2 separate regions of the Homo sapiens genome follow, and region 1 is linked to region 2. Evidence: fine-mapped expression QTL. A gene starts in region 2. The other region holds a variant in brackets. All regions are shown on one strand. Distances are between the middles of the regions.

Region 1 (16,300 bases), 25 kb after region 2:
TTCTTTTACTTTGTAGTGTGGCTATTAGGAAACTTTAAGTTGGAGTGTGGCTTGTAGTTGTGTCTCATAAGATACTTTTTTTTTGACACAGGATCTTGCTCTGTCACCCAGTGCAGTGATAACGATCATGGCTCACTGCAGCTTCGAACTCCTGGACTCAAGTGATCTTCCCGCCTCATCCTCCTGTGTAGCTGGGACCACAGGGGCGCACCACCATGCCCAGCCAACTTATTTTTTGTAGAGACAGGGTCTCACCATGTTGCCCAGGCTGGTCTTGAACTCCTGGGCTCAAGCAACCCACCTGCCTTAGCCTCCCAAAGTGCTGGGATTACAGCGTGAGCCACCACACCTGGCCTCACAATATACTTTTATTGGACATCACTGTTGCAGATCTAATGCGGTGTAAAATGATTTTTAAGTGCACACTGATATAAGAAATAACATTGGCCAGGCACAGTGGCTCATGCCTATAATCCCAGCACTTTGGGAGGCAGAGACGGGTGGATCACTTGAGGCCAGGAGTTCAAAACCAGCCTGGCCAACATGGTGAAACCCCCTCTCTACTAAAAATATAAAAATTAGCCAGGCGTGGTGGTGCGCACCTGTAATCCCACTACTCAGGAGGCTGAGGCACGAGAATTGCTTGAACCCGGGAGATAGAAGTTGCAGTGAGCCAAGATCATGCCACTGCGCTCCAGCCCGGGTGACAGAATAAGACCCTGTCTCAAAAACAGAACAAAGACTAAAACGTTTTGGAACTAGACAGAGGTGATGATTGCACAACATTATGAATGTACTAAATGCCACAGAATTGTCCAGTTTAAAATGGTTAATTTTATGTTATGTGAATTTCATCTCAATTTCTCTAAAAAGGTGAGTTGATCTTAAAGTATTACATGTGAGGTACACAGGTGTGTGTGTGGGTGTTACGGTACAGGAAATGACAAAAACTTGAACACCCCTGTTGTAAGCCATCCCTCTTGAGGGAGTGGGGACTTTGAAGACCTGAGAGAAGTCCAGGCACAGTGGCCCATGCCTGTAATCCCAGCACTTTGGGAGACCGAGGTGGGTGGATCATCTGAGGTCAGGAGTTTGAGACCAGCCTGACCAACATGGTGAAACCCCATCTCTACTAAAAATATGAAAAAATTAGCCAGGCGTGGTGGTGCACGCCTGTAACCCCAGCTACTCGGGAGGCTGAGGCAGGAGAATCACTTGAACCCAGAGGTTGCAGTGAGCCGAGATCGCGGCATTGCACTCCAGCCTGAGCAACAGGAGCAAGACTCCATCTCAAAAAAAAAAAAAACCTGAGAGAAGCCCCTTGGTCCCAGCCTTTCTCTGACAGCAGTGGTGACAGGCTCAGCTCTCCTCCGAGTGCAGCCCTGTCACTGACCTTGCTCCTGTCTCAGGGCTGGGAAGACTGTTGATGTTGTCATTCCAAAGATCCCACCTGGATCAGGGGAACATCCCCCACAGAAGGGTTAGCCATACAGTGCCAGATTCTCCAGGAGAAATTCACCAAAGAAATGGAGTCCCCTTGGGGACAGATTCAACTTGTATTGTCAGCCAGGAGCTGACGTGGCACTTCTGAGAAGAGGCCGGCGCACCTGCTGGCGGGTGCTTTGTGCACTTTTCAGACAGGTCAGGATCCAGCCTGTAGGCAAATTTACTTTTGCTTTGACCTGTAAAACCGGATCTGCCCAGCCTTCATTCTCTCCCTGGAGAACGCCTGCGGCCCCAAAGCCAGGCCTACTGATTTCCAGTGAGGCCACAAATCCCCTCCCTGGTTAGCAATTCAGTTTTCACCGCCTTGGGGGAGAGGGCCTGCCCTTCCTTGAGGGGAAGAACCTGGAAGGCTCGGCTCAGTGTCTTCTCTTGGAAGAGAAGAGTGTGCATGCAGAAGGGTGTAGAAAATGCTAGACGTGTTTCATCTTCTTGACAAAATGACATTGTAAGATGTGTGTATATGTTTTTAAAAATATTACATAGGGGCTGAACATGGTGGCCCACTCCTGTAGTCCAGCACAGGGAGGCGGAGGTAGGAAGATTGCTTGAGGTCAGGAGTTCAAGACCAGCCTGGGCAATGTAGGAAGACTTCATGTCTACAAAAAAAAAAAAAAAAAATTTCATTAGCCAGGCATGGTGATGCATGCCTATAGTTCCAGCTACTTGAGAGGCTGAGGTGGGAGAACCCCCTGAGCCTGGGAGGTCGAGGCTACAAGAAGCTGTGTTCATGCAACTGTACTCCAGCCTGGGCAACAGAGCAAGACCCTGTCTCAAAAATATATATAGGCTGGGCGTGATGGCTTATGCCTGTAATCCCAGCACTTTGGGAGGCTGAAGCAGGCGGATCACTTGAGGCCAGGAGTTGGAGACCAGCCTGACCAACATGGTGGAACCCTGTCTCTACTAAAAATACAAAAAAAGTTAACCAGGCATAGTGGCTCACACCTGTGTAATCCCAGCTACACGGGAGGCTGAGGTGGCAGTGAGCTGAGATCGCGCCATTGCACTCAAGCCTGCACTCGAGGTGACAGAGTGACTCCATCTCAAAAAAAAAAAAAAAAAAATATATATATATATATATATACACACACACACACACAGACACACACACACAATACATATATATATGTGTGTATATATATATATATAACATGGTTATGTGAGTATTTGTATGTATTTTATTAACAGTAATGTTATCATTGTTTTTCAGACCTGCTTTTTTAAAGGCTGCAGAAAACTTCACTCTTTTGGTTAAGAACAACATCTGGTATCCCAAATTTAATTTCAGCAAGTAAGTGGTGGCCAGGTGTGTGAGTTCACCAGGGTCTTGGAGAAACTTCTGGCTCTTCTCTCTTCTCTGAGGTTTTCGTCGCTCTGATTTTCTGCTTCCTCTCGACTTTAGGAGGAATATCCTTCCCAACATCACCACTACTTACCTCAAGTCGTGCATTTATGATGCTAAAACAGATCCCTTCTGCCCCATATTCCGTCTTGGCAAAATAGTGGAGAACGCAGGACACAGTTTCCAGGACATGGCCGTGGAGGTGGGTGCGGGCCCTGGCTCTCCTGACCCAGCCCTGGAGGCGTCTCGTGCCAGGTGCTGAGGAAAGCCTTGCCGTGTCTCTGCTGCTCATCCCCAGGGAGGCATCATGGGCATCCAGGTCAACTGGGACTGCAACCTGGACAGAGCCGCCTCCCTCTGCTTGCCCAGGTACTCCTTCCGCCGCCTCGATACACGGGACGTTGAGCACAACGTATCTCCTGGCTACAATTTCAGGTGGGCGTGAGCTTGGGCCCCTCGCTCATGTTGTAGGGGGTGCTGGTGGCTGCGTACGTGCCAGTGGGCCGCCCACTGAAGACCAGCACTCAGGCAGCACCCCAAGGGCAGGCTGCCGGTCCCCCGTCCAAGGCGGCGGGAAGGCCATGCTGGGAAAATGCCCTTAGTGGTGTCCTGCTCCGGGGCCATCCCGGCCCCCGAGACCCCTCCTTGCCCTTTCCTGCCGCAAGAAACATGTTGAGATGGTTCTTAGAGCAGCCAGGAGAAGCTGGGGGCTTAAGCTTTCCAGCACCTGCCTCAGCCATGACCTCCATTCACTGCCTCAAGGAGCGGATGATCTTGTGATCCTCCAGTCCAAAGGCCTCTGGGGCCTGGCCCAGGAATTGGTTTCTCAAAGGTTGAACCTGTGCCAGAATCTCCAGAGTGCAGGGGACACAGGTCTGAGGCCCCTGAAAGGCCTTGCTGGGTTCCCTGCTGCAAATGCTGGCATCTCGGTGTCCTGGGGCAGATGTAAGCGAGTCCCACAAACAGTGGCTTGCAACTACAGGACTTGATTCTCTCACAGTTCTCACAGTTCTAGAGGCCACAACCTAAAATCCAGGCATCAGCAGGGCTGTGCTCGCTCTGAAGGCTCTGGAGAGAGTCCTTACTTGTCTCTCCTGGCTTCTGGTAGCCCACGGTGTTCCTTGGCTTGTGGATGCATCACTCCAGTCTCTGCCTCTCCTGTCATGAGGCCTTCTGCCTTGTATGTGTCTCTGTGTCTTTTCTTCTTGTAAGGATATCAGTCACTGAATTTAGGGCCCACCCTACTCTAGTATGACCTCATCTTAACAAATTACGTCTGCCAATATCCCATTTCCAAATAAGGTCACACTCCCAAGCTTCAGGTAGATGTGAATTTTTGGGGACACACTGTTCAACCCACTACAGCTGATGATCTCATGATCAGAATCTATAGCCAGGTAAATTTCCACGTACCCTTTGTTGCATTTTTCACAGTCCTTAAAAAGGAAGCGCTCCAGGCCGGGCGCAGTGACTCACACCTGTAATCCTAGCACTTTGGGAGGCCAAGGCGGGCAGATCACCTGAGGCCAGCATGGCGAAACCCCATCTCTACTAAAAAAAATACAAAAATTAGCTGGGCATGGTGGCGCATGCCTGTAATCCCAGCAACTTGGGAGGCTGAGGCAGGAGAATCGCTTGAGCCAGGGAGGCAGAGGTTGCAGTGAGCCGAGATCGCACTGCTGCACTCCAGCCTGGGCGACAAAGCAAGTCTCCGTCTCAGGGGGAAAAAAAAGAGGCCCTGCAAGGACCATCCCTGGGCGCGGTCAGCGGTGCTTTGGGCTGCACTTGCCTCCCCCTAGTGGTGACGTGTGGAATCCGATCCATACGGGATCCTAAGACCTCTGTAATTGTGGGATCTGCTGTCCTTTTGAACCTTCTGGCTCACTGAGTAAAGCAGATATTTGAATTTTTCTTTTCTAGCAGTTAGATTTGTGTTATTCCATCTCTACTGTCACACACTTCTTGTGGAAACCTCAAGCTTAGGTCAGAGCCCTAAAACGGAAAGAACTCAGGACGCCTATCCCCCAACCTCGGGCAGCACCAGGCCCTGCCTGTGTCTCCCAGGCCTGGCCCATGGCGTGGAAGTTGTGGGCCAGATAGAGCATGGAGCTAGGGTGCGGGCCGAGGCTCCTGATGGATCCCTGGAGAACATGGGGCAGCAGATGGTATGTCTTGACGGTTCTTCACCAACCATCCATCCCCTGCTCATGCGTGTGCGCTCTCTCGCGTGCTCGCTCTCTCTCTCTCTCATATATGTATATGTATATATGTGTATATATATATATAGCCATTATATATATAGCCATTATATATATATATTTTTTTTTTTTTCTTCTTTTTTAAGGGAGTGACTTGCTCTGTCACCCAGGTTGGAGTGCAGTGGTGCGATTTCAGCTCACTGCAGCCTTTGCCTCCCGGGTTCAAGACATTCTCCTGCCTCAGCCGCCTGAGTAGCTGGGATTACAGGCGCCCGCCACCACACCCAGCTAATTTTTTGTATTTTTATTAGAGACGGGGTTTCTCCACATTGGCCAGGGTGGTCTCGAGCTCCTCACCTCAAGTGATCCACCTGCCTCGGCCTCCCAAAGTGCCGGAATTACAGGTGTGAGCCACCGCACCCAGCCATATATTTTTAAATGGTCTTACTGAGATGCAATTCACATGCCATACCGTTCACACATTTGAAGTGCAGAATTCATAGTTTTCACTATATTCACAGATAAGTGCAGGCTTCACCACAGTCGATTTTAGAACATTTCCGTCATCTCAAAAAGAAACCCTGCACCCTTCTGTCATCCCCCGGCCCCTGGCAACAGTGGTCTACTTTCTGTCTCTGCAGATGTGCCTCTTCTGAGCATTTCATATAATCAATATGTGGCCTTTTGCGTCTGGCTCCTTCCCCTTAGCCTGATGTTTTCAAGCTTCATCCATGTCGTAGCCTGTGTCAGTACCTCGTCTCTTTTTATGGCCAAATCATATTCTGCTGTGTTGACAGACGACGTTTTGTTCATCTCTTTATCTGTGTGACGAACGAGTGGTTCTTTTTGTTGTTGTTGTTGTTGTTGAAGACTGTGTGCACAGAATCAATGTTTCTTTGAAAAAATAAATAAATTTAAAAAGCCCTAGGTCAAGAGATTGAGACCATCATGGCCAACTTGGTGAAACCCCGTCTCTACTAAAAAATCCAAAAATTAGCTGGGCATGGTGGTGTGCGCCTGTAGTCCCAGCTACTCGGGAGGCTGAGGCAGAAGAATTGCTTGAACTGGGGAGGTGGAGGTTGCAGTGAGCCAAGATTGGTGCCCCTACACTCCAGCCTGGCAACAGAGGGAGACTCCATCTCAAAAAAAAAAAAAAAAAAAGTCCCTGCACTGATGCTGTGTTGGGGCTGGCTTAGTCCCCTCCTGCAATGCTGGCTGGTCACATTCTTACTGTTAGATGTTGGAGGTCAGGGTCCCTTGAGGGAGGCAGGCAGGATGTACCAGGTGGGATGTTGAGAGCAAACTGTTCAGGTTCAGGAGAGGACACTGGTGCTGGAGGAGGAGGTCTCCCTGTGCCCCTGTACCTCGTGGGCCCCGCATCCTCCTGCTTGCACAGCCCGCCTCAGCCAGGAGAGGCCCCGAGCCGCTCCAGCGTCCATTCAGCCGGCAGAGTGGACCATTCACCTGTGCCAGCTCCACTCTAACGTTCTCTCACAGGGCCCAAGGTCCTGCCCCAGCCATCTCCCCCTGATCCATCCTCCTTCCCCTCAGGTTTGCCAAGTACTACAGAGACCTGGCTGGCAACGAGCAGCGCACGCTCATCAAGGCCTATGGCATCCGCTTCGACATCATTGTGTTTGGGAAGGTAGCTCGCCGCCACTGGCTCCCCTCCGTCACTCCCTGCAGGGACAAGGGGCCTCTCCCTGCCCCTGCAGAAACACTTTTTTTCTTTTTCGGTGTCTTGGCAGGCAGGGAAATTTGACATCATCCCCACTATGATCAACATCGGCTCTGGCCTGGCACTGCTAGGCATGGTGAGTGGTTTAGGCCCTGCCTTCACCCTCACGGTGAGGTGAGACCCTGGGCTGGGGTCCTGGTCCTGGCCCTAGGCCCTAGACCTCAGATGTGTTTCTAAACTTGACCCTCCTACCTTCTTTCCCTTGGCCCCCAGCCCTCCTCCCACCTTCCCTTCTCCAAGACCACCCCCCTCAGGTCCCAGCCTTCTCCCAAGAGATGGGAGTGCCTTTCCATTCCGGTAAAGATTCCAGGCTTCTCAGGAAGGGGCACGCAAAGAATAAGATGGGTTGATGGGTTGCAAGCATCCTGGCTCACTCTCACCCTATGCTAAACTCAGGCGACCGTGCTGTGTGACATCATAGTCCTCTACTGCATGAAGAAAAGACTCTACTATCGGGAGAAGAAATATAAATATGTGGAAGATTACGAGCAGGTAGGCCCCTCCTGGCCCCCAGCAGGCACAGGCCTCTCATCTCTTGGGTGTGGGAGCCCTGGGCGTGGGCCTGTCTGGGGAGGCCCTTCTGCAGAGGCTGGCACCAGTGTGGCGTGGTGTCCCCGTTAACCCGGGCAGTCCTGCCACTCTCAGCAGCTGCTCCATCCCTAGGCCCCTGTACTAGATTGACTCTTTAAACCCAGCCTCGTTTCAATGAGCGACATCTCAGGTTGGTGATGATAATGCATGCTCTGAGAATGCCTGTGGGCACACACTACTTCAGTGCACCTTGCGGAACAGGAAGGGTTGGGTTCCAGGCCTGGGACCAACTTGAGAACCCCTGG[CGGT/C]GAAGTCCCAGGAGCGCACCTCCCTCCCGCCTGCCACAAGGGGTCCCAGGGGCACCTTGATCTGCTTGTGTCCTTCTTTGCAGGGTCTTGCTAGTGAGCTGGACCAGTGAGGCCTACCCCACACCTGGGCTCTCCACAGCCCCATCAAAGAACAGAGAGGAGGAGGAGGGAGAAATGGCCACCACATCACCCCAGAGAAATTTCTGGAATCTGATTGAGTCTCCACTCCACAAGCACTCAGGGTTCCCCAGCAGCTCCTGTGTGTTGTGTGCAGGATCTGTTTGCCCACTCGGCCCAGGAGGTCAGCAGTCTGTTCTTGGCTGGGTCAACTCTGCTTTTCCCGCAACCTGGGGTTGTCGGGGGAGCGCTGGCCCGACGCAGTGGCACTGCTGTGGCTTTCAGGGCTGGAGCTGGCTTTGCTCAGAAGCCTCCTGTCTCCAGCTCTCTCCAGGACAGGCCCAGTCCTCTGAGGCACGGCGGCTCTGTTCAAGCACTTTATGCGGCAGGGGAGGCCGCCTGGCTGCAGTCACTAGACTTGTAGCAGGCCTGGGCTGCAGGCTTCCCCCCGACCATTCCCTGCAGCCATGCGGCAGAGCTGGCATTTCTCCTCAGAGAAGCGCTGTGCTAAGGTGATCGAGGACCAGACATTAAAGCGTGATTTTCTTAATCCCTGTCTGTTGTCTCATAGCATGTGCTAGAACTTTCCTTCCTACCCTTTTACGACAACCAGTAAATCCACTATTCCGGCTCACTGTGCTCAGAAAAGGTCCATGGGATGGTCTGTTTCTGGCACTTATGCACATTTTCCCCTACTTCTTTATTTATTTATTTTATTTTTGAGGCAGAGTCTCACTCTGTCGCCCAGGCTGGAGCGCAGTGGTGCAATCTCGGCTCATTGCAACCTCTGCCTCCCGGGTTCAAGCGATTCTCCTGCCTCAGCCTCCCGAGTAGCTGGGATTACAGGTGCATGCCACCATGCCCGGCTAATTTTTGTATTTTTAGTAGAGACAGGGTTTCACCACATTGGCCAGCCAGGCTGGTCTCGAACTCCTGACCTCAAATGATCCATCTGCCTTAGCCTCTCAAAGTGATTGGATTACAGGTGTGCGCCACCACACCTGGCCTATTTATTTTTTTTATTACCCAGGCTGGAGTGCAGTGGCGCAATCACTGCTCACTGCAGTCTCCACCTCCTGGGCTTAAGCGATCCTCCTACCTCAGCCTCCCATAGTGCTGGGATTACAAGCATGAGCCACTGCACCCAGCTGCCTACTTTTTAAAGCCTAATAATTTGTCATTAGCTTGTCTTCCTGCACAGTTCACAGGACACTTTTTCTCTAGTGACATCTTACCTGTGCCTCCATTTTGACATAAAATTACAATTCTATGCTGTGGGTAACACAATTTTTGGTAACATGGAAGTGGCTTCCTCTCCCTTCCCTGTTTGCTTCCCAAAAGTCTCCAACCAAAAGCAGCAGCACGCATACCTAGCTCCGCACAGGTTCGAAATGTTCATGAAGCTATTTCCAGCTGCAGCTTCACACCAACTAAATGTTTGTGTTTTTTTGTTTTTGAGACAGAGTCTTGCCCTATTGCCCAGGCTGGAGTGCAGTGGCATGATCTCGGCTCACTGCAACCTCTGCCTCCTGGGTTCAAGCAATTCTCCTGCCTCAGCCTCCCAAGTAGCTGGGATTACAGGCATCTGCCACCACACCCAGCTAATTTTTGTATTTTTAGTAGAGACAGAGGTTCACCATGTTGGCCAGGCTGGTCTGGAACTCCTGACCTCATGATCCACCGCCTCAGCCTCCCAAAGTGCTGGGATTACAGGCGTGAGCCACTGCACCCAGCCACACACCAGCTGAATTCTGCATCAGGTATTCAGAATCCCCCTAGAGGAAGCAGTTTGCCCTTCGCCTCTGCCATGAATTCACTTCCAAGTACTGAGAGGAACCATTATTTTACAAATACTCTGCTTCTGCTGGATAAATGGCCAACCTGGGCTTTTCTTGCTTTTGGAAAAAAAAAAAAAAGTTTACCAACTCCCTTTATTGAAGCTCTGGTTCATGCTGCCTTTTAAAAAAAAATGCTTGTTGCCTGTAATCCCAGGACTTTGGGAGGCCAAGGTGGATCACTTAAGCGTAGGCATTCAAGACCAGCCCAGTCAACATGGTGAGACCCTATCTCTACAAAAAATTAAATTAGCCGGGTGTGGCGGTATATATCTGTAGTCCCAGCTACTTGGGTGGCTGAGGCCGGAGGATCACTTGAGCCCAGGAGGTTGAGGCTGCAGTGAGCTATGATGGTGCCACTGTACTCCAGCCTGGGCACCAAAGTGAGACCCTGTCTGAAAAAATAAAAAGTGCTTGCTTAGGCACATGGGTCAAATGAAGCTGGAATGTTTAGGAATGGTGATATGGGCTGAATGTGTCTACCAAAATTCACATTTTGGAAACTTCATCCCCAAGGCAACCTTATTGGGAGGTGAAGCCTTGGGGAGGTGACTGAGTCAGGATTGCGCTGCCCTCATGAATGGGGTTGGTGCCCTATACGAGGGCTAGAGAGGGAGCTCATCCCCCGTCTGCCTTGCCACTGTCTGCCACGCGAGGACAAGTGTTCCTCCCTCCAAAGGATGCGGCACCAAGGCACCCTCTTGGAAGCAGAGAGCAGCCCTCACCAGATACCAAACCTGCCAGCACCTTGATCTTGAACTTCCTGGCCTCCAGAAATGTGAGAAATCAATTATTGTTCTTTATAAATTACCCAGTCTTAGGTCCCTGTAACAGCAGCACAAAACAGACTTAAGGGCAATGGGTGTGTTTATGATCTTGCTCGTCAAGGAGTGATGGTCACTGGCTGTCTTCCGAAGTGGGGGAGATGCTGTTTAGCCTCTTTTCTAAAACAAATGTGAAAGCAAGCCAGTGTTGGGGTGAGGGGCGGGTGTGTTTCTAGATGCCATGAACACCAGCAGGAGGCTGGGTGTGGTGATGCGCGCCTGTCATCCCAGCACTTTGGGAGGCTGAGGCAGGAGGATTACTTGGTCCAAGAGTTTGAGACCAGCCTGGGCAACAGGTAGTGAGACCTCATCCCTACAAATAATTTAAAAATTAGCCAGGCATGGTGGTGCACATCTGTAGTCCCAGCAACTCGGGAGGCTGAGGTGGGAGGACTGCTTGAGTCCAGGAGTTTGAGACCAGGCCTGGGTAATATAGTGAGATTCTGTCTCTATAAAAAATTTAAGAATTATCTGGGTGTGGGGGCTGGTGTGGTGGTGGGCCCCTGTGGTCCCAGCTACTTTGGAACCCAAAGTGGATGGATCACTTAAGCCTGAGAGGTGGAGATTGCAGTGAGCCGAGACTGCCACTGCACTCCAGGCTGGGTGACAGAACGAGACCCTGTCTCAAAAAAGAAAACCAGAAGGGTTTTGCTGGCAAATTCTAACCCTTGGACAACTGACTTAACTTTCTGGAGCCTCACCTCACAGACGATGATCCATAAAACGAGGTTAATCCCTACCTCGTGGGGTAAAGTGTCATGTGGCATACCAGGCCATAGTTCAGTGTGACTGAGACTGCTCGGGGGCTGCCCACCTGTCTGGCCTCCACCAGAATCTTGCAATTACCTGCCTGCGAAAGCAGTGCTGCTCAAACTTCAGCACACGGACGAGTCACCTGGGGAGCAGGTTTAAGCCAAGCCTGGGTATCTGCATTTATTTTTTTCTTTTAATTTTTGAAACAGGGTCTCGCCCTGTTGCCCAGGCTGGTGTGCAGTGGCATGATCACAGCTCACTGCAGCCTTGACCTCCAGGGTTCACGTAATCCCCCCACCTCAGCCTCCTGAGTAGCTGTGGGACCATAGGCATGCACCACCACACTCAATTAATTTTTTAATTTTTTTTTTTTTTTTTAAGAGATGGGGTCTTGCCATGTTGTCCAGGCTGGTCTCAAACTCCTAGGCTCAAGCAATCCTCCCACCTTGGCCTCCCAAAGTGCTGGGATTGCAGGTGTGAGCCACCGTGCCCGGCCGGCACCTGCGTTTCTAACCCACTCACAGGTGACACTGGCGCTACTGGTCTGGGAGCCACACTGAGTAGCAAGGTCCTAGGACATGCTCTAAATTAGAGATTTGCTGAATACATTAGCCTTGACTTGGGCATCTGACCTCGCTGTCAGCCTGAGGAAGGAATACAGACATCAGGGCAGGCGGCCTAAATAAACAATCACCAATACAAACCTCCCCAAGAGGCCCAGGCTTGGCACCATTTTGCTGTCTGTTTATTTCAACTGTACAGAGAAGCTTAAACACCTGTGGAAAAACACGAAAGGCTTAGTTGTCTCTTAAGTTCATGTACTTTTTAGTGATAAATACACAGTATTTAACTTTATACACCTGATAAAAGGAAAATGCATAGTAGAAAGGGTCGGGAATGAAACAGAAGCATCGGGCATTGAATCGATCACAGAGTAGAAAAATCTGCAGTCCCCAGAAACTCGGCCTCCAGCTGGAGAGGGGAACCAGCGTACCCTGAAACTTCCCTAGCACCTTGGAAGCAAGTGGAGGTCATGGTTCTTCCACTCGGCAACGTGAAGCTCCCCGCTGGAAGACAAGTGAGAGCGACAGGCCAGGCCTGTGTGTCCACCTGCACAGGCATTCTCCTTGTTCCAGAAAGGCTCTGAGGACGGAAGACCTGCCTCTCAGGAAAGGCCAGACCAGTAGGGAGAGGCCTCCGCAGCCCCAAGTGTCAACAAGGGGCTCAATAAGGCTTTCTGGGAGCCACTGGCAGCTGGTGGGATGGAAGGGGGAGGTGGAAAAGGGCAGAGGAAATGGGAAGTGGATGGAGGGTTTGTGCTTCCTTCGAGGCCACAAGTGCAGGCCACAGGTTGCTTACACCAAATTGGTCCCACAGATGAGCTAGCAATGGAAGAAATTATGGGCGTCCTCTTTGCCCACTGGAAGAGCTGCTCATAACAGCACCTCCTTTCCTGACAGAGCTGGCTTTTGAAAAATCAATGTGCTCCAAGAGTGGCAGCTCAAATGCTCTGTGTTTACAGCCATCTTGGCTTATCCTTTTCATGTGGGGCAGGTCCTTTCCACAGCTTTCTTTGGTGTTTCTTCATTAAAAGAAAAAAAAAAAGTCATCAATGTGGGTCTCCCCCACCCCACTGCCCCCACAGCTGGGTGCTGCCTGATTGCTGGCATTCCCTGGAAGAAATCTTAGATGGAAGGTTCCGTGGTGGGGAGAAATGGCATTGTCTGATGCAGCTGTGTAAACAAGAGAAGCCCTGCAGAAGCTCTAAGCACTGCTGCCCCCTGGGCCAGCCACCAGGCCAGGCCAGAGCCCACACAAGCAGGCTGGGCCTAAGACTAGGGACCCGCTGGCTTTAACCTCTGCAAGGTGCTTATTGCAAACTAACCAAGCCCCATCTGGTGCCAGAAGGGGTGGAGCTATTGAGTCCTCTCCCCATAAACATAAAGCCAGGAGGGCAAGAGGAAGTGCTGGGTTACAAAGACCCAGCAAGCAGGCCAGACGACCCTCTCTAGACTACCTGTCCTTTGCTCTTCAAAACCAGCATTCCCTAATTCTGAACTGCTTATAAGATAGCAAAACAAGTCTGGCTAAACTACAGTCAAGAGCTTAGGATCTATGGAAGCCAAGAAGGCCCAGGGCTCCATGAATGGGCTGGGCAGGGGCACGAGGCCTTGCCTTTGTCTGAGAAGTCCTCACACCACAGCTGATCAGATGGAAACAATGGGGAAGCAGAGTTTCCCGGTGCCGTCTTTCCCCAGCCCAGATTCCACCAAGCGCTGGAAAGCAGAGCTGGGAATCTCCCAAGGCAGAGTCCTTCCAGCTTTCCTCCCCCTCAACTTCACACTCCCCTACCTGTGGCTCTGGAAGGAGTCACACTTGAACCTCAACCAAACTTCCCAATATCAGTTGGAAGTCAAAAAGATGAACCCTTTCTTTCTGGACTTTTAGCTACAAAGGGGAACTTCCTGTGCCAAGCCCTGGTTTCCTCATACCCCAACGAGTGCTGTGGGTTTCAACAGTCTTCTCTAAAAGGGTGCCCCAAGGTTATTGTGTGGAGTCTAGGGAAGCTCAGATCCTCAGGATGATCATTTGTGTGTTGGTCCAGTGAAAGCATTTCCCACCTGGCCCTCCAGAAACTGGGTATTTCATTGACCACAACAATCAGCTAGGATTTAAAATGAAAACAAAACCTTAGCAGTCTTTAGAATATACAGGTTATGAACTAGCTAAGCTGCTAATATATATACAGGCGGGCATAGGTTTCATCGGCTCTAACTGATCACATGCCTGAAGCTGTGAAATATATCCTGGAAGCTCTAAATAGTTTCTGAACTACTGTGCTCTAGAGTTCACTCTAGTTAGAGACTTGAAAAATGTTTTTGTTTAATCTTAAGCCATGTAATGTACATGGAAGCATAGGATTTCACCCTGAAGTTTTCGTAATTTGACAAAGAGATTTACCAGAGCTCGGTCAGCTATCTCAGAAACCTGCTTTGAGCAGCTGTCATGAAGAAACACGTTCAGTCTTTCAGGAGAAATGTTTCCCCACCACAGCTGCTGAATACCCTTCCAGGCTTGGAAAATCCCCTTCCAGCAGCACTTATTAAATTTCAAGCCCTTTCTGTTTTCCTGACTACAATTCTACCCATAAAAAATTTAAAAATCCTTCTTACAAATAAGTTGCATCAAAGCTCCCTGCAGCTACTGAGGGCCAGCCCTGCTCTGACTCCTTGAGACCACGGCTCTGGAAGGTGCCATGGTTTCCGGTTTGCACTAGGAGCCACATCTAGCCCCCTACTCCCTCTCAAATGCAGCAACCACCTCCATGGCCTCAGACCGCCGGAGTTTTCTGCTCGCCTTTCCACAGTTGTCAAACCCCACACACAGTCACTTGGTATATCTGACGTGGTTCTGAAAATCACAATGAAGGATTTTTGGCATAAAAACGTTTTAAAAAGCAATTGTCCCAAAATGCACGTGGGTTTGGGTCTGCAACTCCTCACACCCGCCTGTCCAGCCAGCCAGCGGCCACGGTCGACGTCATGGAGTCAAGTCCTTTTTTTTTTTTTGTCCCCTTTAAAACAACAAAGGAAAAAACAAATAACCAGAGATGACGATCGAGGCTCTACACACGTGCTGGGTTTCCGTAGGACATGCTGCTATGGAAACGCGGTGCAGCAGCCCCCCAGAGGCGACGCGGCGCGCATGCGAGGTCGAGCGATCCAGGCAGCTACTCGGGCTCCATGGCCTCCTCCGGCCGCAGTGGATGCATGCGTGCGGGGGAGCCGGGGGCGGGGGCCCAGCAACTTTCCACGCAGGGACTGCCTCTCACAAGAGCACTTCCTCCTCCCCCACGGGGGGCGGGTCGGTGCCCTGGAGGTTGTCTTCGCTGCCTTGCTTCCTGCTCACCGAACAGAAAACCAACATTAAGACTCTGAGAAATGCCAGCGAGGCCCTGAGCCAGCTGCTCCCACATCTGGGCCCCCTGCCCAAGTGGGCCGTCGCGCACCCCCTGGAACGTGATCTACGTAACCCAGTCTTTGAGATCCTCTCCCCTTTTCCTTGCTCACATAAATTTTTCAAAGGAGACTTTGCACGCAGCCCCTCTGTAAATGAAAGACCAGCATCATTTGCCAAAAATAGCAAGGACCCGTACAACAGTTCCAAAACTATGTAACACCAAAATTCACTGCACAAATCCCAAGTAGAAGGCACCCCCCACCCCACGGCGCCTGTCATACCAGGTTTTTAGGTACTTCGATCCCCCACTTAGGCTATGAGCCCTTACAGGGAAGGGACTGTGACGCTTGTCCTCAGTCACCAGATGTTGAGTTCCTTGTGTGTGGGGGTGATCAGAGCCTCCCCTGCCTGGCCTGGCACACAGCTGGCCCTCAAGAAAGGGCAGATGACAACTGCTCCAGGGATCCTCCCGCCTCAGCCCTCCTGCAGCCAGCCCTGAGGGAGGAGCACCTCAGACAGAAGAGGAGGCCCCTTCCCTCTTGGAAGTGGGAGGAGGAGAGCCCTTGTTTCCCTGAAGAGCCCAGGCTGGAGCCGCCGGTGTGACAGCGTGGATGGCGTGACAGGTGCGAGGGGAATCCCCGAGCCTATCCCCTCACCACCATCACACAGCTCCCCTGTTCTTAGGGAGGTCACTGGGCATGCCACATGGGTTACTGTCTGTCCTTCCCCCACAACAATCCGTGTCTCCTGTCCAGGAGGGAGACTGTCCTTACACAAGGGAAAGGAAGCGTGATGTCTGGCTTGCTATGTTTCTGATGGAGAATGTGGGTAAGGTCCCTGGGGAGGGGGGCGCTGTAACTAGACGTTAGGTCAGGCCCTCAGTCTCTGCCCTCGCAGTTGCCTGTTGGTAGGGGTTGGGTCTTACTGCAGACGGCAGGCAGGCCCCCAGTCCAAGACCCCCAGTGCCTGAATCAGCTCTGTGAGCTCCCATGACCAAGGCATCCTACCTGCTGGGGGCTGAGGGCAGGGGATCCCAGGTGAAGAAAGGAAGGGGCAGCATAGCCCTTTGGGGCCAGTCTCCATCTGCTGGTGTCTTGCAATTTTGATCTCATTGAAACGAAGGCCGGGCACAGTGGCTCATGCCTGTAATCCCAGTACTTTGGGAGGCTGAGGCAGGCAGATCACCCG
Region 2 (16,300 bases):
AGCTGGTACTAGAGGCACCCGCCACCACACCCAGCTAATTTTTGTATTTTTAGTAGAGGCGGGGTTTCACCATGTTGGCCAGGCTGGTCTCGATCTCTTGACCTCGTGATCGGCCCACCTTGGCCTCCCAAAGTGCTGGGATTACAGGTGTGAGCCACCGTGCCCGGCCTTCTCTTAAGAAAAGTAATCAACTTCAGAGTAGACATTTTTAAAAATGCAGATAAGTATGCAGAGCAAAAATCATCTATAGTTTCACCCTTCCCAGAAAAACCAGTTAAGATTTTAATTTATGATCTGCCACACTTTTTTCTATAAACACAAAAATTTGAAGACCCAGTACACATATTGCCCTGTTATATTTTTCCATTTAATTATCTCAAATATCTTTCCACAGCATACTATCATTATTTTATTTTATTTTATCTTGAGATGGAGCCTCATTCAGCCGGGCGCAGTGGCTCACACCTATAAACCCAGCACTTTGGGAGGCCAAGGCGGGTGGTTCACCTGAGGTCAGGAGTTCGAGACCAGCCTGGCCAACATGGGGAAACCCCGTCTCTACTAAAAATACAAAAAATTAGCCAGGTGTGGTGGTGGGCGCCTATAATCCCAGCTACTTGGGAGGCTGAGGCAGGAGAATTGCTTGAACCCAGGAGATGGAGGTTGCAGTGAGCCAAGATCACGCCATTGCACTCCAGCCTGGGGGACAGAGCAACACTCTGTCTCTAAAAAAATAAATAAATAAAAAATAAAAAAGCTTTTCAATAGTTTTGCCTTGCTGGACTCACTGGGTTATGTCTGTAATCCCAGCACTTTGGGAAGCAGAGCTGGGAGAATTGCTTCAGGCCAGGAGTTTGACATCAGCCTGGGCAACATAGTGAGACCCCATTTCTTTCTTTTTTTTTTTTTTTTTAAGAATTTTAAAAAACGGGCGGGGCACAGTGGCTCACGCCTGTAATCCTAGCACTTTGGGAGGCCCAGGTGGGCAGATCACCTGAGGTCGGGAGTTCGAGACCAGCCTGACCAACATGGAGAAACCCCATCTCTACTAAAAATACAAAATTAGCCAAGCGTGGTGGTGCATGCCTGTAATCCCAGCTACTTGGGAGGCTGAGGCAGGAGGATTGCCTGAACCTGGGAGGCAGAGGTTGCGGTGAGCCAAGATCGCACCATTGCACTCCAGCCTGGGCAACAAGAGCGAAATTCCGTCTCAAAAAATAAAAATAAAAATAAAAAAAGTTAAAAACTAAAAAAAAAATCATAAATGTTACACATTTTCAACCAAGTAAAACGAAATAAAATATATAGATTTTACATTATTTCCATTCTATATATTACAATTTTTTCTTCGTGGCACAGTGACATGAAATTTCATTGTGAAATTTAAAAAGAAACAAACAAAAATTTGTTGTGAAAATCACATACAGGATTGATGAATTTGGGGCTGCCTCTTGTTTTCAGCAGTATCAGACAATTCCCCCACACTGCCTCTTGCAGTCACAGGTTATTCCCCATCCACCTTTTATTCTACGCTGCCTATCAAAGGGTGTGATCTCTGAGGTCTTTTACAGCCTAAAGACCGAATGTCAAATGTGCTAAGATGTCAAGATCCAGGTATTAGAATATGTCCAGCTCATCTGCAGGAATATCATCCTTCCCCATCTCCTCCATTTCAACAACCTGTAATTCCTCCCACCCACTGAATGGGAGAAAACATCTATAGATCATATATCTGATATGGAATTTGTATCTAGAATATATAAAGAAGTCTTACACTTTAAAACCATAATACAAGTGGCCGGCATGGTGGCTCACGCCTGTAATCCCAGCAATTTGGGAGGCCAAGGTGGGTGGATCATCTGAGGTCAGGAGTTTGAGACCAGCCTGATCAACAGGGTGAAACCCTGTCTTTACTAAAAATACAAAAATTAGCAGGGCATGGTGGTGGGTGCCTGTAATCCCAGCTACTACTTGGGAGGCTGAGGCAGGAGAATTGCTTGAACCTGGGAGGCGGAGGTTGCAGTGAGCTGACATCCCGCCACTGCACACCAGCCTGGGCAACAGAGAGAGACCCTGTGTCAAAAAAACGAAAAGGACGTTGGGTCTGATGGGGTTGAGAGGATTATCTGTGATCAACATATGGCCTGTTAGATAAGAGTCAGGGTTTTTCTGTTCTGTTTTTTTGCTTTTTGTTTTTTTTGTTGTTGTTGTTCCACAATAGATTCAGTCTCAAGCACTACCCAGGGAAAGCAACAGCAAAATTATAAAATAATTTATTCCTCACTTCTGCTATCAACTTGTTCTTTATTTAGACGTTCTGTTTCTGGAAGTATATATAATTATACTGTGTGCCACACGTATCTGTCATTCTGTTATACAATGACGTATTTCACAATGTCTATGTGCCAGATAAGCGAGTCTTACATCTTTAAATGCCTAAACATTTAATTTAAACATTTTTTCATTGTAGATTCTCCTAAACAAATGACACTGTCTCTTCTGACTGGCCTTTTGCGGCTCAAGGCCATTGTAACAAATGTCAGTCTTACATAACCATAACCAAATGACACCCTAAGGCACACTGAGGTCTCTAAACTAAATGGCCCCAGACTGATGAGCTTTTCGGAGTTCTTGGCTCTGCTTTTTATAGAAACATTTCTTTTTTATGGGCTATTTGTGTATCGCTGCTCTTAGTATTGGTGGCCTGGGGCAACGCGTCCCACCTCCTTCTAATTTGCTGCATTCAAACAAATGTTTGTTTTACCACCTACGTTACTGGTGACATAATACATTTTTTATCTGTTAGATCCTAGGGCTATAGACATAGTCTTTTCAATTCCAAGTTTCAGAAGGCTACTAGGTTAAGTAAAAAATGAACACTTATTATGAGATTATGGGGGTATCTCAAAGGTAAAGGTGAACGGGGGGAGGAGGCAGAACCAAGAAGTGGAAGCTCAACAGAAACCAGAGGCCGTTCCCTTCGTCTCTCTCACCTCTGTGCATCTTTGCCCGGCTGTTTCATACTTTTGCTTCTGCAGATTACTGTTCTCAGCTTCTCCATGCATACGATGGTTATGTCAAATCAGTTCCAGTCACCTGCAGAGAAGAAAGAGTTGTCACTATCCCAATGCCAAAGCCAGAGGAGAGACTGGCCCGGCTGGGTCAGTTTCCCACCTGTGGTCCAGTCAGCTGTGGCCAGGAAGATAAGGTCACATAGTATAAAAACAGCTGCTGCACCACCTCTGCGAGAAATGACAGCCTAGAGAAAGCAGGTACTGATGAACTGGCTTCACCAGCAACAAAGGAACCAGAAAATCGAAACTGCTCCAATCGCATCTGAACTAAAAAGAGGCCGGGCGCGGTGGCTCACGACTGTAACCCCACGCTTTGGGAGGCCGAGGCAGATGGATCGCTTGAACTCAGGAGTTCAAGACCAGCCTGGGCAACCTGGTGAAACCCCATCTCTACCAAAAATACAAAAAATTAGCTGGGCATGGTGGCGTGTGCATGTAGTCTTAGCTACTTGGGAGGCTGAGGTGGGAGGATTGCTCGAACCCAGGAGGCGGAGGTTGCACTGAGCCGAGATCATGCCACTGCATTCCAGTCCAGGTGACACAGGGAGACCCTGTCTCAAAAAGGAAAAAAAAAAGGTAAGCTTGGTGTGAGGGCCTGAGATGCTCCCCTGTGAAGAAGGAATATGACGTCTGGCCCCATGGATTCGTGGTATATACTTTGCTTTTCTTGAGACCTTGGTTGTTTACTCCCTGTTTACTGGAATTATTACTGAGACATAACTCACATACCATAAAATTTACTCTTTTTAAATGTACAATTCAGCGGCTTTTAGTATATTCACAGGTTCCGCAACTATCACCACTTTCTTTTCCAGCACATTTTCATCACCCTAAATGGAAACCTTGTACTCACCAGCAGCCACTTTCCATCCTTTCTTTCCCCCAGCCCCTGGCAACCACTAATCTACTATCAGTTTTGTTTTGTTTTGTTTTGTTTTGAGACGGAGTTTTGCCCTTGTCGCCCAGGCTGGAGTCCAATGGCGCGATCTCAGCTCACCGCAACCTCCGCCTCCCAGGTTCAAGCGATTTTCCTGCCTCAGCCTCCTGAGTAGCTGGGATTACAGGCGTGCACCACCATGCCCAGCTAATTTTGTATTTTTAGTAGAGATGGGGTTTCTCTATGTTGGTCAGGCTGGTCTCAAACTCCTGACCTCAGGTGATATGCACGCCTCAGCCTCCCAAAGTGCTGGGATTACAGGCGTGAGCCACCACACCCGGCCTCTACTTTCAGTTTCTATGGATTTGCCTATTCCAGACATTTCCTATACACAGAATCATACGATAAGTGCCCTGTGGCATCTGGCTCCTCTCACTCAGCGTGGTGTTTTCAAGGGTCATCCGTGGTGTGGCGCGTGTCAGTGCTTCCTTCCTGTGGCTGAATCATGTTCCATTGTATGGATGGACCACATTGTGTTTATGTGTTCATTAGTTGATGGACATTTAGATTGTTTCCACTTTTTGGCCATTATGAATGCTGCTATGAATACTCATGTACAAGTTTTTGCATGAACATTTTTCTTTTTCAGAGGAGGGGTGGAAGTTTATTTGAAATGCCTTAGGATGGGAAAGGAAGCTGTGCTTGGAAGAGGCCCAAGTGGGCATGGGAAGGTTAAAGAGACAAGGTCAGATGCCAAACATAGCTTTTCTTTTCTTTTTTTTTTTTCTTGATACGGAGTCTCGCTCTGTCACCCAGGCTGGAGTGCAATGGTGCGATCTCGGCTCACTGCAACCTCCCAGGTTCAAGTGATTCTCTTGCCTCAGCCTCCTGAGTAGCTGATTACAGGGATTACAGGCATGCACCACCATGCCTGGCTAATTTTTGTATTTTGAGTAGAGATGGGGTTTCTCCATGTTGCCCAGCCTGGTTTCGAACTCCTGGCCTCAAGTGATCCACCTGCCTCGGCCTCCCAAAGTGCTGGGATGACAGGCGTGAACCACGGAGCCCCGCCCAGAACATATCTTTTTAATTCTCTGGGGAAATCCTAGAAAAGGAATATCTTGGTCCTACGGTAATTTCTATGTTTAACATTTTGAGGAACTGCTGTTTTCCAAAGCAGCTGGCCCATTTTACATTCCCACGAGTAAAAAGCAGCTGGACCATTTTACATTCCCATGAGTAATGTGTGAGGGTTCCAGTTTCTCCACATCCTTGCCAGCTTTTTGATTGTCCATCTTTTTAATTATAACCATGCTAGTGGGGAGGAAATGGTATCTCACTGTGGCTTTGATTTGTATTTCCCTAACGATAATGATATCGAGCATCTTCTTGTGTTTATTGATCTCATGTGTATATCTTCTTTGGAGAAATGTCTATTCAGATATGTTTGCCCATTTTTAAATAGGGTTGTCATGTTATTGGTGAGTTTTAAGAGTTCTTACGATATCTGAAATACTAGATCCTTAACAGATATAGGATATGTGAATATTTTATCATTCTGTGGGTTTTTCCCTTTCTTGATGGTAACTTTGAAGCACGAACTTTTCAGTTTTGACAAAGTAGTCCAATTTATCTATTTTTTTCTTTTGTTGCCTTGCTTTAGGCAACAAAATCTAAATCTAAAAAACCACTGTCTAATCCGAGGTCACAAAGATTTGCCCCTATGTTTTCATCAGAGAGATTTATAATTTTAGCTCTTATATGTATGTCTTTGATCCATTTTTAATTTTCTCTCTTTCCTTATTATTTTTATTATATTATTTTTTTTAAGACAGAGTCTCACTGTGTCACCCAGGCTGGAGGGCAGTGGCACAATATCAGCTCACTGCAGCCTCCGCCTGCTGGGCTCAAGCAATTCTCCTACCTCAACCTCCCAAGTAGCTGGGATTACAGGCATGCACTACCACACCCGGCTAACTTTTGTATTTTTAGTAGAGATGGGGCTTCACCATGTTGGTCAGGCTGGTCTCAAACTCCCGACCTCAAGTGATCCACCTACCTCAACCTCTCAAAGTGCTGGGATTACAGGTGTGAGCCACACCTGGCCAATTTATTTTTTTAAAAATTTTATGTAGCTGGGACTACAACTACAGGTGCGTGCTACCATGCCCAGCTAATTTTTGTACTTTTTGTAGAGATGGGGTTTCACCATGTTGCCCAGGCTGGTCTGGAACTCCTGAGCTCAAGTGAGCCACCCACCTCGGCCCCCCAAAGTGCTGGGATTACAGGTGTGAGCCACCGCATCCCGCCTTCTTATTTATTTTTGAGACAGGGTCTCACTCTGTCACCCAGGCTGGAGTGCAGTGGCACAATTGCAGCTCACTACAACCTTGACCTCCTAAACTCAAGTGATCCTCCTGCCTCAGCCTCCCAAGTAGCTGGGACCACAGGCATGCACCAGCATGGCTGGCTAATTTTTAAAGTATTTATAGAGATGGGGGTCTCCCTATGTTGTCCAGGCTGGTCTCAAACTCCTGGGCTCTAGCAATCCTCCCAACTTAGTCTCTCAAAGTGCTGGGATTACAGGAATGGGCCACCATGTCTGGTCAATAAAGTTATTTTTTAAAAAGAGATAATCCAAGAGCAACAGTGTAAACAAAATAACTTTTCCAAATCATTTTTTAGGATCAGCTTCTTTGGTCAGGCCTAATGATGTTACCAACTAGTAATTTATAAAAACTTGCATTTCTACATTTTTCTTAACTGACCCCATTCCAAAACACAAGCAAACCATCTAAATTCAAGATTTGTGAGGTTGGGACTAACTCATTACTATAGGGTAAGTATGAATGAAGGCTGGAAATGTGTTTTGATTGCTGCCATTATTTTTTATTTTTATTTTTTCTGAGATGGAGTTTCACTCTTGTCGCCCAGGCTGGAGTGCAATGGCGTGATCAGCTCATGGCAACCTCCACCTCCCCGGTTCAAGCAATTCTCCTGCCTCAGCCTCCTGAGTAGCTGAGATTACAGGCATGCGCCACCACGCCCAGCTAATTTTTGTATTTTTAGTAGAGACGGGGTTTCTCCATTGTTGGTCAGGCTGGTCTCGAACTCCCAATGTCAGGTGATCCACCCACCTTGGCCTGCCAAAGTGCTGGGATTAAAGGTGTAAGCCACGTGCCTGGTGTTTTTTGGGGTTTGTTTGTTTGTTTTGAGATGGAGTCTGTCACCCAGGCTGGAGTGCAGTGGCACAATTTCAGCTCACTGCAACCTCCGCCTCCCAGGTTCAAGCAATTCTTCCTGCCTCAGCCTCCCGAGTAGCTGGGATTACAGGCACCTGCCATAAGGCCCAGCTAAGTTTTTTATATTTTCAGTAGAGATGAGGTTTCACCATGTTGGCCAGGCTGGTCTCCAGCTCCTGACCTCACATGATCATCCGCCTGCCTCGGCCTCCCAAAGTGCTGCAGTTATAGGTGTGAGCCACCGTGCCCAGCCATGTTTTGATTCTTAAGGAAATGATTTTTAAGTCCCCTTCCAATGAGGATTTAGCAATGGAGTTTTCTTCTTCTACAGATAATTTGAGGCTTCCCAATTGCACCAAACTCCATTTGGGCAGATACCTCACCTGTCCACTCCATAGCCCTAGCATCAAGAAAAGTGCCAAGCACACAACAGGCACTCAGTAAATTTCTGTCAAATGAATGAATAAAATACCACCACCTTTTCCTGAGACCATTTTGGACCAAGGCTGGCATGGGCATCTCTGTTCCTCCCTCTAACTTAAGAATTCCATCTCTTAGAGGCAGATGCTGCCTGTTTTCTGCAAATTTTATTATTCACCTTTCTATATTTGGAAAAACAAGTTGGTGTGGCTTACTTAGGAATCTCATATCCAGGAAATGAGCTAAAAATGTTGTATCAAAGATTATGCATAGGATCCACAAACTAAGAAGCAAGCAGATGAGAGCGGTTAGAGACATCGTGGTATATTTTCCGGAAGAAATGGTCCATGGATTAAAAATTGTCATTATGATGAGTCTGCAGTAACACAGAAACCACGTAGTGCGAATCAGAAAATGAAAAGCACAGCCATTGACTATGATTACAAACCAAAACTTTATACCAATTACCTGTTGGAATTTATGCTGCATGAAGGCAGGATATTTTGCTTGTCCTGTTCACTGGACAGTACTTGGCATAAAGGATGTGCTTATGAATATTTTCTGGGAAACTAAATATAACATTCACCTGTGAAAACACATCTGGGCCAGGCGCAGTGGCTCACGCCTGTAATCCCAACACTTTGGGAGCCCGAGGCGGGTGGATCATGGGAGGTCAGGAGCTGGAGATCAGCCTGGCCAACATGGTGAAAACCTGTCTCTAATAAAAATACAAAAATTAGCTGGGCGTGGTGGCGGGCACTTGTAATCCCAGCTACTCAAGAGGCTGAGGCAGGAGAATTGCTTGAACCTGGGAGGCGGAGGTTACAGTGAGCCGAGATCGCGCCACTGCACTCCAGACTGGACAAGAGTGAAACTCCGTCTCAAAAAAAAAAAGAAAAAGAAAAAGAAAAAACGTATCTGAAGGGAATGAACAAATACACATGCGGAAAATTGTATTCATGGGGTAGAACGGTGGCTGTTTCCCCCCCTTTCACTATTTTCTCTCCTAAAGTTGTGATAGCATTTTCTCAGTGGAAAGGATGACCACAGAATTATCTCCCCTGGGCTGCAACTAAGGAAGTATTTGGAGTGAGAATGCGACCAGGCTTCAAATCCAGGAGGGGTATTTTACAGGGCGTGTGGCTCTCACCCAGGGCTCACAGGACACCTGATATTTAGGCTGTTCCCCAAGAGGCTAAGGACAGCGCGGCCCCAGCTCCCCCAACCACAGCTGCCCAAGTTTAGGAGCCCGCACTCGTGAGCGATGGCTACTCCGCACAGCCCCGGGGTCCTCTACGGAAATCCCTGGCACCTATCAGTACCCCTAAGGGAGGTCGCTCGTTACCCCTCACTTGAACTCTGTCCCAAATGGGAGGTCACTCTCTCTTCGCGGACCCCATCTTCCCCGAAAGGGTCTCTTGTTCTCTCTGGCCCTCCTGAGAAGGTCATTACTCCCCAACTCGCCTTTTTTGTTGTTTTTTGGTTTCTGGTTTATTGAGGCAGGGTCTCGCTTCATCTCCCAGACTGGAGTGCAGTGGCGCGATCACAGCTCACACGGCAGCCTCTACCTCCTGGGCTCAAGCGATCCTCTCACCTCAGCCTCCCTGGGACTACAGGCGAGCGCCACTACGCCCGCTTTTTTTTTTTTTTTTTTTTTTTTTTTGTATTTTTGATAGAGACGAGGTCTCGCTATGTTGTCCAGGCTGGTCTCTAACTCAAGATTCCTCTCACCTCGGCCTCCGCAAGTGCTGGGATGACAGGTGTGAGCCACCGCCCCCGGCCCCTCGCCCGCCTTTTGAAGGAGCCTTTCGTCCTCAAGGGCGAGGCCACTCCCCCCCCGCGAGTTCCATGCCCCCTAGAGGGTCATCGTTCCCGACGGGGAGGTGGCGCCCTCCCCCGGGCCCCGGGCCCCGACCGCCCGTGCTGCCTCCTTCCGGGCCCTCCTCCGCGATGACGGCGCCGCCAGCAGGCCAGGCGGACTGGGCGGGGCTCCGAGCGGGGACTGGGACCCAGACCGACTAGGGGACTGGGAGCGGGCGGCGCGGCCATGGCGGGCTGCTGCGCCGCGCTGGCGGCCTTCCTGTTCGAGTACGACACGCCGCGCATCGTGCTCATCCGCAGCCGCAAAGTGGGGCTCATGAACCGCGCCGTGCAACTGCTCATCCTGGCCTACGTCATCGGGTGAGCGTGGGGCCGCGCGGGGGGCGCGGCGGGTGCTGCCCTCGCGTCCGCGCCGTGCGGCGGCTCATCCTGGCCTCGGTCACCTGGGCGAGTCCGGGAGCGGCGAGCCGAGGCGGTGACACCTTCCCTGGGCCCCAGCCGCCGCGCCGGGGCCCCGGGGGCGGGAGGCTGCTTGCTGCTGTTTTAAAACCACAGCCTGGGCCAGGCGCGGTGGCGCAAGCCTGTAATCCGAGCACTTTGGGAGCCCGAGGCGGGACCATCGCCTGAGCCCAGGAGTTCGAAACCAATTTGGGCAACATCGTGGGACCCCGTCTCTGCAAAAAATTAAAAATCATCCGGGCCTGGTGGCGCGCGCCTGGGGTCCCAGCTACTCAGGAGGCTGAGGTGGGAGGATCGCTTGAGCCCAAGAGGCTGAGGCTGCAGTGAGCTATGATCACACCACTTAACTCGAGCCTGGGAGACAGTCCGAGACCCGTCTGTTTACAAAATAAATAAAGGCAAAGCCTGGCTAGGCTGTTACCCTCTCCTGCCTGACCCCCCATAGTGCCCCTTGGCTGTAGGGGCTTCGCCCTGAACGTCTCAATCTTCGCTCTCCACTTCCCATCCTGCTGATTTGCTGACAAAACCAAAGCTTGGAATTTCCGCTTGGTTCCTTCTGGGTGGGTGGCTTTTGGTCATTTCTTTTGATCACTATGCGGTGTCACTATGTGGTAGTAGCGAGGTCAGACTGTAGCGAGTGTTTAAAGTTTGCTTCCTTTGTTTTCTGGGCTTGTGGGGCTTTTTGTGGTACCTGCCCTAGCCTAGTCAGTCATTCCCCATGCTGCCCCCTTAGGCTAGAGATGCCCTACCGCCCTCAGGCCTCGCTGAATGTGCCATTGTACTTGAAGGCACCTGTTACTTTTTTAATTTTTTTATTTTTTTGAGACGGAATTTCTCTCTTGTCGCCCGGGCTGGAGTGCAATGGCACGATCTCGGCTCACTGCAACCTCTGCCTCCCGGGTTCAAGCAATTCTCCTGTCTCAGTCTCCTGAGTGGCTGGGATTACAAGTGCCCGCCACCACGCCCGGCCAATTTTTGTATTTTTTAGTAGAGACGGGGTTTCAGGCTGGTCCTGAACTGACCTCAGGTGATCCGCCCACCTCAGCCTCCCAAAATGCTGGGATTACAGGCGTGAGCCCCCACGCGGGGCTGGCACCTGTTACAATTGAATACAACGCGAGAGAGAAGATGATAATTACCTTGCCACCTGGGGCCACTTTAAAGGCTTACCTGGGGTGTTCTGGTGTCTACAGCTGCTGGGCTGACACGTATTGCCTAGTGCAGTGGTCTCCAAACTGCACATTGGAACCATCTGGAAATCTTTGGCTCCCATCCCCAGACCCTTTTTTATTTTTTTGATGGAGTCTCCCTCTGTCGCCCAGGCTGGAGTGCAGTGGTGCAATCTTGGCTCGCTGCAACCTCCACCTCCCTGGTTCAAGCGATTCTCCTGCCTCAGCCTCCTGAGTAGCTGGGATTACAGGCACCCACCACCATGCCCGGCTAATTTTTGTATTTTTAGTAGGGACAGGGTTTCGCCATGTTGGCCAGGCTGGTCTCGAACTCCTGGCCTCAGGTGATCCACCCGCCGCAGCCTCCCAGAGTGCTGGGATTACAGGCGTGAGCCACCGCGCCCAGACGCATCCCCAGACCTTCTGATTTAATTGCTGCAGAGTATGATCGGCTGCCCAGGTGATTCTCATGTTCAGCAACGTTTCGGAACCAATGAACTGTGTTTCCCAAGTTTACCTGATCATGGAAGACTCATCTGAGGAATTGTTTAAAAGTAACAGATCCCCCCGTCTTTGGGGTGAGGTTTGGAATCTTAACACTGCCCAAGGGAAGCCCAAGCAGGTTTGGCTTCCAATATCTGTCAGCAGCAGCAGTAGATACAGACAGTATTCAAGAGGATGGCTTTCCAGGTGCAGACTCAACATCAGAACCACCTGGCCCACACCCAGATTTGGACTCATTGGCTCACACCTGTAGTCCCAGTGCTTTGGGAAGCCAAGGTGGGAGGATTGCTTGAGGCCAGGAGCTCAAGACCAGCCTGGACACAAGACCAGCCTGGACAACATAGCGAGACCCCATCTCTAAGAGAAAAATAAAGTTTAAAATGGTAAATTGTACTGATGGAGCAGTGCAAAAAAAAGAATTTTTTTTTTTTTTTTTTCTGAACACGGTGGCTCATGCCTATAATCTCAGCACTTTGGGAGGCCGAGGCGGGTGGATCACCTGAGGTCAGGAGTTCGAGACCAGCCTGGCCAACATGGTAAAACCCCGTCTCTACTAAAAGTACAAAAAATTAGCCAGGCCTAGTGGCTAATGCCTGTAATCCCGGCTACATGGGAGGCTGAGGCAGGAGAATCGTTTGAATCCAGGAGGCGGAGGTTGCAGTGAGCCCAGATTGCGCCACTGCACTCCAGCCTGGGCAACAAGAGCAAAACTCCATCTCAAATATATATATATATATATATATATATATATATATTTTTTTTTTTTTTTTGGAGACTCACTGCTAGCCAGTTAACTGAACTCACATCCCTGGTTGGACCTGAAGCATTTGGGGGCAGGAGCTCCCCTGCAGCTTTTTGCTTTTGGCGTTTGCTGCTAGTGGGAGGATCAGTGCACATCTACCTTAGGGTACCTGTAAAATTACAACTGCGGAAAATATCCATAGTGGTGTTGCACTGTATGGTAGCCACTAGTAACTTGCACCTGTTGAACACTTAACCGTTCCTACTCTACACTGAGATGTGCTATAACCTTAAAATACACACTGGATTTCAAAGACATAGTACAGAAAAAGAGGCTGGGCACAGTGGCTCATGCCTGAAATCACAGTACTTTGGGAGGCTGAGGTGGGAAGATCGCTTGAGCTCAAGAGTTTGAGACAAACCTGGGCAACATAGCGAGACCTTGCCTCTACAAAAAAATACAAAAATTAGCCTGGCATGGTGGCACACGCCTATAGGCCTACCTATTTGGGAGGTTGAGGCAGAAGGACTGCTTGAACCTGGGAGGTTGAGGCCACAGAGAGCTGTGATCACACCACCCTCCAGCCTGGGCAACAGAGCAAGACACTGTCTCAAAAAAACAAAGAGTACCACTATCACATGAAAACATTTTTTATTGATGACATGTTAAAATATTTTGGATATATTGGGTTACACAGAATATATCATTACAATTAATTTTTCCTGTCTCTTTTTTCTTTTTTTCTTTTTAAACGGCGCCTTGCTTTGTCACCCAGACTGGAGTGCAATGCACTGCAACCTCTGCCTCCCAGGCTCAAGTGATTCTACCATCTCAGCCTCTGGAATTATGGGACTACAGGTGCACACCACCATGACTGGCTAATTATTGTGTTTTTGTTTGTTTGTTTGTACAGATGAGAAATCTCATCTCTACAATCATGAGGTTTCCATGTTGCCCAGGCTGGTCTCGAACTCCTGAGCTCTAGCAATCTGTCTGCCTCGGCCTCCCAAAGTGCTGGGATTACAGGCATGAGCCACCGTGCCCAGCCCTTTCTATTTCTTTTTACTTTTTGACATGGCTACTAGAAACTTTTAAATTACAGGGTCTTGCCCTGTGGTAGCTCACGCCTGTAATCCCAATACTTTGGGAGGCTGAGGCAAGTGGATCCCTTGAGCTTAGGAATTTTGAGACCAGCCTGGGCAACGTAGTGAAACCCCATCTCTACCAAAAATACGAAAAATTAGCTTGGCATAGTGGCGCACACCTGTGGACCCAGCTACTTGGGAGGCTGAGGTGGGAGGATTGCTGTAGCCTGGGAGGCGGAGGTTGCAGTGAGCCAAGATTGTGCCACTGCACTTCAGCCTGGGCGACAGAGCGAGAGCCTGTCTCAAAAAAAAAAATATGTGGCTCGCGTTATGTTTTTATGGGACAGCGCAGCTCTGTAGGATTCCTTATGACGCATTCACTATCTCGGTCATGAGAATCTTTAAAGCAGTAAATGCTTTGCTTTTGTCCGTCTTGCTATAATCAAAACTGACTCAGGACCTGCATTAAGGCTCTTTTTTTTTTTAACCTCATCTCTTAACTTTTTGATGCAACTCATCTTAGTGAAATTGTGGTCTCCTCCTACAGCAACCCTCCCTCAAAAAAAGACCGAACACGCAATTCTCATCTATCTAACTCTGTTAACAATCATATGAGGAGGAAATAATCACATGATAATGAGTGGCATGAAACCCTGTGTCTCTAAATTAAGCAACTCACTGTACTTGATGAGTACATCAGTCTTCCTGCCCCAAGCTTTTGTGTGTCAGACTGGAATTAAATGGAAGCTTACACTGCAGCTGAATTCCTAGAAGCCCTGGACTTGTCAGGGGAAAAGCCCATGGGGGGAAAGCCCATCTCTAGGCTGGGCAATGAACTTGGAGACTGCTCGATCACACACACTCATAAGTAACAAAACCATTAATTTCTTTTCTTTTTTTTGGTGGAGGGACAGAGTCTCACTCTTGCCCAGGCTGGAGTGCAGTGGCATGATCTCAGCCCACTGCAATCTCCACCTCCCGGGTTCAAGTGATTCTCCTGCCTCAGCCTCCCGAGTATGTGGGACTACAGGCACCCACCACCACACCCAGCTAATTTTGTGTATTTTTAGTAGAGTCGGGGTTTCACAATGTTGGCCAGGCTGGTCTTGGACTCCTGACCTCAACAAAACCAGTGAATTTCTGAAGTCTCAGCATCTAGGACTTAGAAGAAGGAGAAGCCTAGCATTTCCTGATTCTATAAATAACAACACTGATAGTCTCTAGTAGATGTTTAACAGCAGTTCGAAGGGGAGGGGTTCTGATTTGTAGTACTGGCCAATTTCCACGGTGTCAGTACTTGCTCTGTGACCAACGATGACTCACAAACATTGTTGTAAACATTTGACCTACATTAATTCTTTTACCCTCACAAGAATCCTGTGAAGATCTACTATCATTCCCAGATTATAGATGGGAAAAACTGAGGCACAATGAGGTTAAGCACCTTGGCCAAAGTTATGCCTCGTGAATGGTGGAGCTGAGCCATGAACCAAGACCTCTGCCTCCAGTCTGTCCTAACCCCTATAAGCTAATGCCTGTAGATGGTTTTTTTTTTTTTTTTTTTTTTGAGACAGAGCCTTGCCCTGTCGCCCAGGCTGGAGTGCGGTGGCATCACAGCTCACTGCAGCCTCCGTCTCCCAGGCTCAAGTGATCCTCCCACCTCAGCCTCCCAAATAGCCGGGATTTTTATTGGACAGCACAGCTCTGTAGGATTCCTTATGACGTATTCACTGTCTCAGTCACGAGAATCTTTAAAGCAGTAAATGCTTTGCTTTTGTCCATCTTGCTATAATCAAAACTGACCATGCCCGGCTAATTTTTTATTTTTTGTAGAGATCCCTATGTTGCCCAGGCTTGTCTCGAGCTCTTGGGCACAAATGATCTTCCCCCCTTGACCTCCCAAAGTTCTGGGATTACAGGCGTGAGCCACTGTACCCAGCCCCTTTGGATTTTTAATTGTTCAAACTGGTAGTCATAGTCCCACTTCAGAGGAGAGAACCATATATGTGACCAGAATTCTTGGGGGAAAAGTAAGAAACTACTCTTAAAAGTTCCTTAAAGGGTAGAATTCTCTTTTCTAGAAAGAGTAGCCTAGGGTTGTCCAATCTTTTGGCTTTCGTGGGCCACACTGGAAGGAGAAATTATCTTGGGCCACACATTAAATATGCTAACACTAACAATAGCTGATGAGCTAAAAAACAAACTTTTTTTGATCACACAAAAAAAAATCTCATAACGTTTTAAGAAAGTTTACGAATTTGTGTTGGGCCTCATTCAAAGCCATCCTGGGCCGCATGCGGCCTGTGTGCTATGGGTTAGACAAGCTTAGAGTAGAGCATAGTGGGTGAGAGAAGAGGCTTCAGATGCTTCTGGCTTGAGTTCAAATCCTGACTCTGCCACTCACTAGCTGTGTGACCTTTGGCAAGTGACTTAACCTCTCTGTGTTTCCATTTCCTCCTCTGTAAAATGGAAATAATAATAATGATACCTGTCTCATAAAGTGGTCAGGATTAAATGAGTTAATACATATAAAGAGCTTAGATCAGTGCCTGGTGCCTATAAACACTCCAGTGGTAACTGTTATAATTTGTATTATCTCTTGGTGATTCCCATAGGTCACAGGCATTGAAAGTGCTCAAAGGGCCAGGTGCAGTGGCTCACGCCTGTAATCCCAGCACTTTGGGAGGTCGAGGTGGGTGGATCACCTGAGGTCAGGAGTTCGAGACCAGCCTGGCCAACATGGTGAAACCCCGTCTCTACTAAAAATACAAAATTAGCCAGGCGTGTTGGCGCATGCCTGTAATCCCAGCTACTTGGGAAGCTGAGGCAGGAGAATTGCCTGAACCCGGGAGGCGGAGGTTGCAGTGAGCCAAGATCACACCATTGCACTCCAGCTTAGGCAACAAG

The links.
Region 1: its variant is fine-mapped to the expression of P2RX4 in whole blood (TOPMed, PIP above 0.99).

What each region holds. Positions count from the first base shown.
Region 1 is chr12:121,225,817-121,242,116 of GRCh38, forward strand. It overlaps P2RX4 (purinergic receptor P2X 4), which reads left to right. Exons shown (of 12, transcript NM_002560.3): 6 at 2,717-2,797; 7 at 2,909-3,050; 8 at 3,147-3,283; 9 at 6,598-6,691; 10 at 6,795-6,860; 11 at 7,181-7,276; 12 at 7,707-8,290. The coding sequence ends at 7,733. It overlaps CAMKK2 (calcium/calmodulin dependent protein kinase kinase 2), which reads right to left. Exons shown (of 17, transcript NM_001270485.2): 17 at 11,876-15,053. The coding sequence ends at 14,883. Among named protein-coding and RNA genes, the nearest start is that of P2RX4, 24 kb to the left of the region's middle. RefSeq lists enhancers at 1,503-1,552, 4,691-4,740, 7,926-8,553 and silencers at 4,450-4,744, 14,950-15,029. The variant CGGT/C (reference allele first, on the strand shown) is at 7,621.
Region 2 is chr12:121,200,505-121,216,804 of GRCh38, forward strand. P2RX4 (purinergic receptor P2X 4) reads left to right here and starts at 9,625. Exons shown (of 12, transcript NM_002560.3): 1 at 9,625-9,794. The coding sequence starts at 9,661. It overlaps LOC105370032 (a long non-coding RNA gene), which reads right to left and starts at 9,568. Exons shown (of 4, transcript XR_001749352.3): 1 at 9,345-9,568; 2 at 2,994-3,096. RefSeq lists a silencer at 9,331-10,070 and an enhancer at 10,401-10,450.